Linked DNA regions of Homo sapiens. The protein of the gene in region 1 purifies or fractionates together with the protein of each later gene. This does not show direct contact. Each region holds a gene or a part of one and is shown in the gene's direction. Other genes may lie near its edges. The genes, in order: MTRES1 and SLC30A9.

What was found.
Region 2: the proteins of MTRES1 (region 1) and SLC30A9 purify together in Homo sapiens (affinity purification with mass spectrometry; one large-scale study listed by BioGRID and IntAct). This does not show direct contact.

Annotation. Positions count from the first base shown.
Region 1 is NC_000006.12:107,044,920-107,048,686, forward strand, and holds part of MTRES1 (mitochondrial transcription rescue factor 1), read left to right. Parts: intron 1-3,767. UniProt on the Homo sapiens protein: Mitochondrial RNA-binding protein involved in mitochondrial transcription regulation. Functions as a protective factor to maintain proper mitochondrial RNA level during stress.
Region 2 is NC_000004.12:42,066,767-42,070,589, forward strand, and holds part of SLC30A9 (proton-coupled zinc antiporter SLC30A9, mitochondrial), read left to right. Parts: intron 1-318; coding exon 319-426; intron 427-3,759; coding exon 3,760-3,823. UniProt on the Homo sapiens protein: Mitochondrial proton-coupled zinc ion antiporter mediating the export of zinc from the mitochondria and involved in zinc homeostasis, zinc mobilization as well as mitochondrial morphology and health.

The DNA of each region.
Region 1 (3,767 bases):
TGGCTCATGCTTGTAATCCCAGCACTTTGGGAGCTGAGGCCAGCAGATCGCTTGAGCCCAGGAGTTGAAGACCAGCCTGGGCAACATGGCAAAACTGTCTCTACAAAAAATACAAAAAATTAGCCAGGCGTGGTGGCAGGCGCTTGTCCCAGCTACTCAGGAGGCTGAGACGGGAGGATTATCTGAGCCTAGGAGGTCAAGGCTGCAGTGAGCCATAATCATGCCAATGCACTCCAGTTTGGGTGACAGAGTGAGACCCTGTCTCAAAAAAAAAAATTCTGGCTGGGCGCAGTGACTCACACCTGTAATCCCAGCACTTTGGGAGGCCGAGTCAGGTGGATCACGAGGTCAGGAGATCGAGACCATCCTGGCTAGCACAGTGAAACCCCATCTCTACTAAAAATACAAAAAAAAATTAGCCGGGTGTGGTGGTGGGCGCCTGTAGTCCCAGCTACTTGGGAGGCTGAGGCAGGAGAATGGCATGAACCTGGGAGGCGGAGCTTGCAGTGAGCCGAGATCGTGCCACTGCACTCCAGCCTGGGCGACAGAGCGAGACTTCGTCTCAAAAAAAAAAAAAAAATTCTGTTAGAAAATATTTTTTTGTAAAAGTAAGTTACGTATATATATACATCTGGAATTAAAATACTGCTGTTACTAGCATTTATCTTTAATTGAAGCATTATGGGTTATGTTAATTTCATAGTTTTTATTTTCTGAATTTTTTTACCATGAGTATGTATCACTTTCATAATGGAAAAAACAATACTGATAATAAAAGTTAACAAAACACAATAAAAAGTTATGACAGAGACCCTTAAAAAGTGTGGAAGACACAAGACACGAGGTATTGGAAGACATAATCTAACTCAGTGTTCAGGGAACAAAGGTTCCAGAGAAGTTAGACATACTTTGGAGATTGTTTTCATTTCATCTTTCATATTTCAAAATACCCCTGGGGTTGGAGGATCCGAACTACATCCGGTTGCCCTAGGACATGGGAAATTGAGGCTGTCGGCTGTCAGCCGTGCATTTGGGTGAGCACTGAGGCTTCCTGCAGTCCTTGCTAACTGGGATCATGCAGGTTCTTGTAGCTCTGTGGGCAGAAGGAGGGAAAACTCCCCCAAGCTGTCTCAGCCCCCAAGTCCCAGGGCCCTGGTGATGCCCCTGACTTGAACCGGCAGGCTGGGACTGTGGCTGGCTGTCAGCAGCTATTGCTCAGTGAGCTACATGCAGTCATAAGCCCTTCTCATCTCTGAATAGCTTTTTCCTGCTGTAGCCTGCCCTCCTTCTAAGCTGCAGTATTCCAAAAACAAGATGTATTCTTGGAGTAAAGAATGATTACTCCCTGAACACCCTGTCTCTGTGCTGGGGCCTCATTTACAAACCCCACTAGACTATTTTTCCTCACACCCCTCCCACCCGCCCCCGTTTTGTGATGTTGTTAACTACAGCCTAATTGCTGCTGCTTCATTCTGCCTTGGGTGTTCTGTTGTCTCAGCTGCCTTCCATGTTTCTTGTGAGGGTCAGCAAAGGAAGGGGGCATTATTAACGCTCAGCTGTCTTGTTACTAGGAGGCCTGGTAGCCATAGAAACTGCAGCTAACTAGAGATTTGAAATGTAGATATTTGGAACAGCTCCTAATCCCAGCCAGTTTTGCTTTGTGTCTGCTGAGGGACAGGGGCCGTGGAGGGGAATAAAGAATGCCTCGCCTTCCCTGGTCTGCTCTGTGGAGCCTGTGCCTGGCTGCTGACCCCGAAGGGTCAGGTGCTTGTCTGATGCTGCAGCTCTAACCCTGGCTGTCTGCGATTCAGCAAAGCTTTTCTTTGAGCTGAAAACCAGGTGAAGCCCAGGGTGTGGTAGGTGTTGGGTAACTGTTGATTAAACAGTGGGTGTGTGGTGTCCAAGTATGGGGATTGAATCCTTCCTAAACTCATCTCTTCCTGGGATCAGTTGGGTAAAGGAGGAGCACCCCTTCTCTGTGCTACAAGGAAGCTCCAAAGGGATTCATTCTTGTGTGTGTGTGTGTGTGTGTGTGTGTGTGTGTGTGTGTGTGTGTGTATTTTTAGTAGAGACGGGGTTTCACTGTGTTAGCCAGGATGGTCTCGATCTCCTGACCTTGTGATCCACCTGCCTCGGCCTCCCAAAGTGCTGGGATTACAGGCGTGAGCCACCACACCCCGCCAAAGGGATTCATTCTTTAGCCACACACTAGCCTTCTCTATCCAGAGGCAGACATCATGCACAGTATCTCTATGAAAGGATATACACAGAGTATCCTTTTCTTTGTATATTTTTTTTTTCTTTTTCTTTATTTTATTTTGGAGACAGTGTCTTGCTCGGTTACCCAGGCTGGAGTGCGGTGGTGCAGCCACAGCTCATTGCAACCTTGACCTTCTGGGCTCAAGTGATCTTCCCACCTCAGCCTCCCGAGTAGCTGGTATGACAGGCACACCACCACGTCTGGTTAATTTTTTATTTTTTATAGAGACAGGGTCTCACTGTGTGGTCCAGGCTGGTCTTAAACTCCTGACCTCAAGTGATCTACCCACCTTGGCCTCCCAAAATTCTGAGATTGCAGGCATGAGACACCACACCTGGCCTATACACCTTTTCTTTGTCTACCCTTTTGTATCTTCTAAATTTTGTATCATATGCATATATTACTTATTAAAAATGAATTGTAGGCCGGGCACAGTGGCTCACACCTGTAATCCCAGCACTTTGGGAGGTCAAGGCAGGTGGAACACTTGAGGCCAGGAGTTTGAGACCAGCCTGGCCAACATGGTGAAACCCCATCTCTACTAAAAATACAGAAAGTTACCCGGGCATGGTGGCAGGCTCCTGTAATTCCAGCTATTCAGGAGGCTGAGGCAGGAGAATCGTTTGAATCCAGGAGGTGGAGCTTGCAGTGAGCCAAGATCGCGCCATTGCACTCCAGCCTGGGCAGCAGAGCGAGACTCCATCTCAAAAAAAGAAAACAAACAAAAAAAGAATTTTAGCTGAGCAAGTTGGTGTGTGTCTGTAGTCGCAGCCACTTGGGAGGCTGAGGAGGGAGTGTCGTTGAGCCCAGGAGTTTGAGGCTACAGTACACTATGATTATGCCTATGAATAGCCACTGCATTCCAGCCTGAGCAACATGTGAGACCTCATCTCTTTAAAAATAGTAATTTGAATGAAATAAGGTTATACCAAAAAGGTAAAGCAGAGTTCCCAAGCCTTGTATTTCTTTTTTTTGAGACAGCCTTGCTCTTGTTGCCCAGGCTGGAGTGCAATGGCACGATCTCGGCTCACTGCAACCTCTGCCTCCCAGGTTCAAGCGATTCTCTTGCTTCAGCCTCCAGAGTACCTGGGATTACAGGCACCTACCATCACGTTCTGATAATTTTTGTATTTTTAGTAGAGACGGGGTTTCGCCATGTTGGCCAGGCTGGTCTTGAACTCCTGACCTCGTGATCCACCCTCAGCCTCCCAAAGTGCTGGGATTACAGGTGTGAGCCACCACGCCTGGCCTGTATTTCTAGACGGATTTTTTAAAATGTCCACATAGGCTGAAGTAGTCATTTTAAAAAATTGAACCCAGGGTTGGGCGCGGTGGCTCACACTTGTAATCCCAGCACTTTGGGAGGCCAAGGCAGGTGGATCATGAGGTCAAGAGATCAAGACCATTCTGGCCAACATGATGAAACCCTGTCTCTACTAAAAATACAAAAATTAGCTGGGTGTGGTGGCACATCCCTGTAGTCCCAGCTACTTGGGAGGCTGAGGCA
Region 2 (3,823 bases), on another chromosome or scaffold:
TTATTAAAAAGAAATGTAGTATAGAAATTTGAACATGGATACTTTATATTTGGATTTGACTTAAGTGAACTAAGGTATTTCTTTATATGGTTATATAACTTGAGAAAGTAATTTGACTTTATGTATCAGTTATTGTTGACATTTAAGCCAAGAAATTATGTTTGCATTGAGCAAGGTTTTTAAAATCATAATCTCTCATACACTTTTTTATCTTAACTTATATCTTGATTTTAAATGGATACTTATTAAAATGTTACCTGATAGTATCAAGTTAAGATTTTAGAAATTTTCTTGTCTTGTCTCTTCCCCAATGACTAGTAATGGAAAGTCGTGATCCTAGTACAAATGTGATATTATTGGAGGATACTGCTGCAGTCTTGGGAGTTATAATAGCAGCCACTTGCATGGGCCTTACTTCTATAACAGGTAAATATTCCTTAAATTACAGGTGATTTATTTGTCCTACTTAAATAATTCTCTAATATGTGGGAATTTTCTCTTATATCATTGAATAATATTAAACCAACAAATTGTTAAATGTTAATTCCTACTAATCATTGACTTATGTAAGACATTTGGTCAGCAGAAGTATTCAGGTTTATTTGAATTAAAAATGTCTCTAAATTAGAAATAAGGAAGGCTATTTGTAAAGGATTTCTGTAATGCTGTACGTCTTTCTAGCTGTGACTTAAAAAATTGTGCAATCACTCTGAACTTTTTATTTACCTATAAAAGTGTGGATAATATTTACCTTGGTAACCTCTTAGGTTTATTAAGAAAATATGAGAGTTTTAATAAACTCTAAAGTTCCAAATAAATATACATAGGTCCTCAAATAACATTGTTTTGTTCAACTTGATTTTGTTATAACATTGTTGCGAAAAATATCAATTCCTAACTGGAGCTACCATCTCTGTGGAGTTTGCTCATTCTCCTTTTATCTACATAGGTTTTCTTTGGGCACCCCAACTTCCTCCCACATCACAATGCCGTACATGGTCAGTGAATTGGGGTGTCTAAATAGTCCCAATCTGAGTGAGTGTGGGGGTGTGTGTAAGTGTGCCCTGCCATGGGATGGCATCCTGGCCAGGTCTGGTTCCTTCCTGTGTCCTGAACTGCTAGGATAGGCTCAAGTAGATGATAATCAGACAAATGCAGGACAATAACTGATGTATGAAAGCGCTCAGCAAGCCTACATATTTGTGGTTGTTTATTTTTGAATTATGTGGTGATAGGTGTTCCTTACAATTTTCACTTTGCAAACATTTATTCTTTGATTTAACTCACCACCCCTACTATTGCTGATACTCACTGATTCACCAAAAATTGGGTAAATAATTATTTTACATAGTTTTTATTAATTTTTAAAAATGTATATGTAGCCCACATTTATTTCAGTGTTCAATATTAGACATGTTTTGGGTCTTAGAAGTTGAGTGATGTTTTTGTGACCAGAAATATGCCATAGGAACTTAACTCTTTTTTTTTTTTTTTGAGACAGAGTTTTGCTCTTGTTGCCCAGGCTGGAATGCAATGGTGCCATGTCGGCTCACTGCAACCTCCACCTCCCAGGTTCAAGCAATTCTCCTGCCTCAGCCTCCCGAGTAGCTGGGATTACAGGCATGCGCCACCACGCCCGGCTAGTTTTGTATTTTCATTAGAGACGGGGTTTCTCCATATTGGTCAGGCTGATCTCAAACTCCCGACCTCGGGGGTGATCCTCCCACCTTGGCCTCCCAAAGTGCTGGGATTACAGGCATGAGCCACCACGCCCGGCCGGAACTTAACTCTTGTTTGTATCAGTTAGCTTATGGTAAAATTGGTTTTGTTATATGTTGTTCCCTATAAAGTCGCAGTTTCTAAGAACCTATTGACAACATGAATGAGGACTTAACCGTATATTGTGGCTCTTGTTCATTTGTCTTTTTCCACACTTAATGCCAATAATAACTACTGTTGCCTTCCTATTTCTTTAATTCTAAGTTGTTTGTGTCCTTATTTTGGTAGCTAATTAAGTGTTTTGAGGGCCAATAAAATACAAGTAAATGAAAAGACAATTCTATTTTATTTTTATTTTCGAAAACAACCATTTAGCATGAAAAGACTCAATTTATGAAGTTGGAATTCTCTTGGAAAGGAACTTCTTCCATACTTCTCTATTTGTCCTTACATATTTAAAATAATTTTAGGTGACGAGCTTCCACAGTTCTGCAGTGTTTCTTCAAATAGTCTGAAATATGAATACTTCTTTCTCATTCTGAGTGTGCATTTTAATACCAAACTAGCATTCTCTGATGTTTATTGTGATCCAAAATATTTGTAAAAATGTTGATTGTTTTTCTGGTTGACCATATAGTTTTAGACTGTTTTTGAACATAAATTACTAGCAAAATTTTAGGCTTAAGAAAAGTGTGACTTGATGCAGATGTCAACTTTGAATAATTTATTTTCTTTTACATAATAATAGAAACCAATCAAATCAAATTTACAAAAATATGTAATGTGTTTTACATGAATTAAATTTTTCTTAATTAGCTAATTTATTCAAATTAAATTAAATAACATGCCAAGAAATAAAAGTTTTCTTAAAAAAGGTATTTTCTTTCAGCTAATATTCCTGTAATTTCTTTAAGAGTACATGAATGTATATATTTAAATAAAAATAACTCTTCACATTTGGATTTCTAAAGAGCAGTATTTGATTTTGAGCTCTATAATTACAAAACTTCTAATGGATAATGTTTTACAAGCGGATCATTTTTAACACTTAGTATAGATTAACAAGTTTGCTTTTTAGTGTTACAGCTTAGCAAAATATATGTTTTATCAAGCATTAAGAAGAGTTAAATATATTGATGACATTTCATCTTTGGGATAAAAAGACTTGTAGTCATAAAAGCCATGTGTAAAATTTATTATAAAGATTTAAAACGTATTTATTGGTGTCTATTATATAAATATTACCTATACATTCATAGATGATAAATCAGCCTTTCTCATTGGTTCTGGGAGAGAAGCCCTGACAACCTAAGGCAAATATTAGAATCAGAATCACCTGAAGGGCTTGGGGAAACACAGAATGCTGAAACCCACATCCAGAATTTTTTATTCAGGGGCCTGAAATGAGGTCTGAGAATTTGCTTTTCTACCAAGTTTTCAAGTGATGGCTGCTGGTCCAGGAACCACACTTTGAGAAGCACCACCTTGAGGCACCTATGGCATGTAATGAATTAAGTTCTCTCCTTTTTATCTAGAATGATACTAGCTATATATCATCCTTGGTTGGATGAGAAGAGAGTCACCCATATTATTTTCTGTAGGGCTTAATTCTCTTACAGAACATTAGTAGGAAGAAGATACGGAAAAAGGTTTCTTTCAGCTTTTGATTCCACTGTTATTTTGTCTATCTGGTGTAGGAAAAGTGCTATGGATATATCTAAAAGAAATGGACTCTTCATTATGTCATTTTTTTGTATTGGTGTCTCTAATCTAAATGTGCTCAGAAACTTCACATATGTAATGACAGGTACAAGTAAGAGATCTTAATTATGTCACATAGTACTCTTATGAAAGCAAGTTGTAGCATCCTCATTTTGTGGTATATTAAAACTATTAGGAGTTGTTAAAGGAAGTAATTAAAGAAATTAGGAATAAATTTCAAGTGCCTTGATTTACTCGTTCTGGTTCTTTGCTCTCTATAAAGTTCACTGAAATAATATAAACTGTTAATTTACTGATTTTTTTATGTGCTTCATTTAGGCAATCCACTGTATGACAGCCTAGGTTCTTTGGGTGTGGGCACCTTATTAGGCATGGTCTCAGC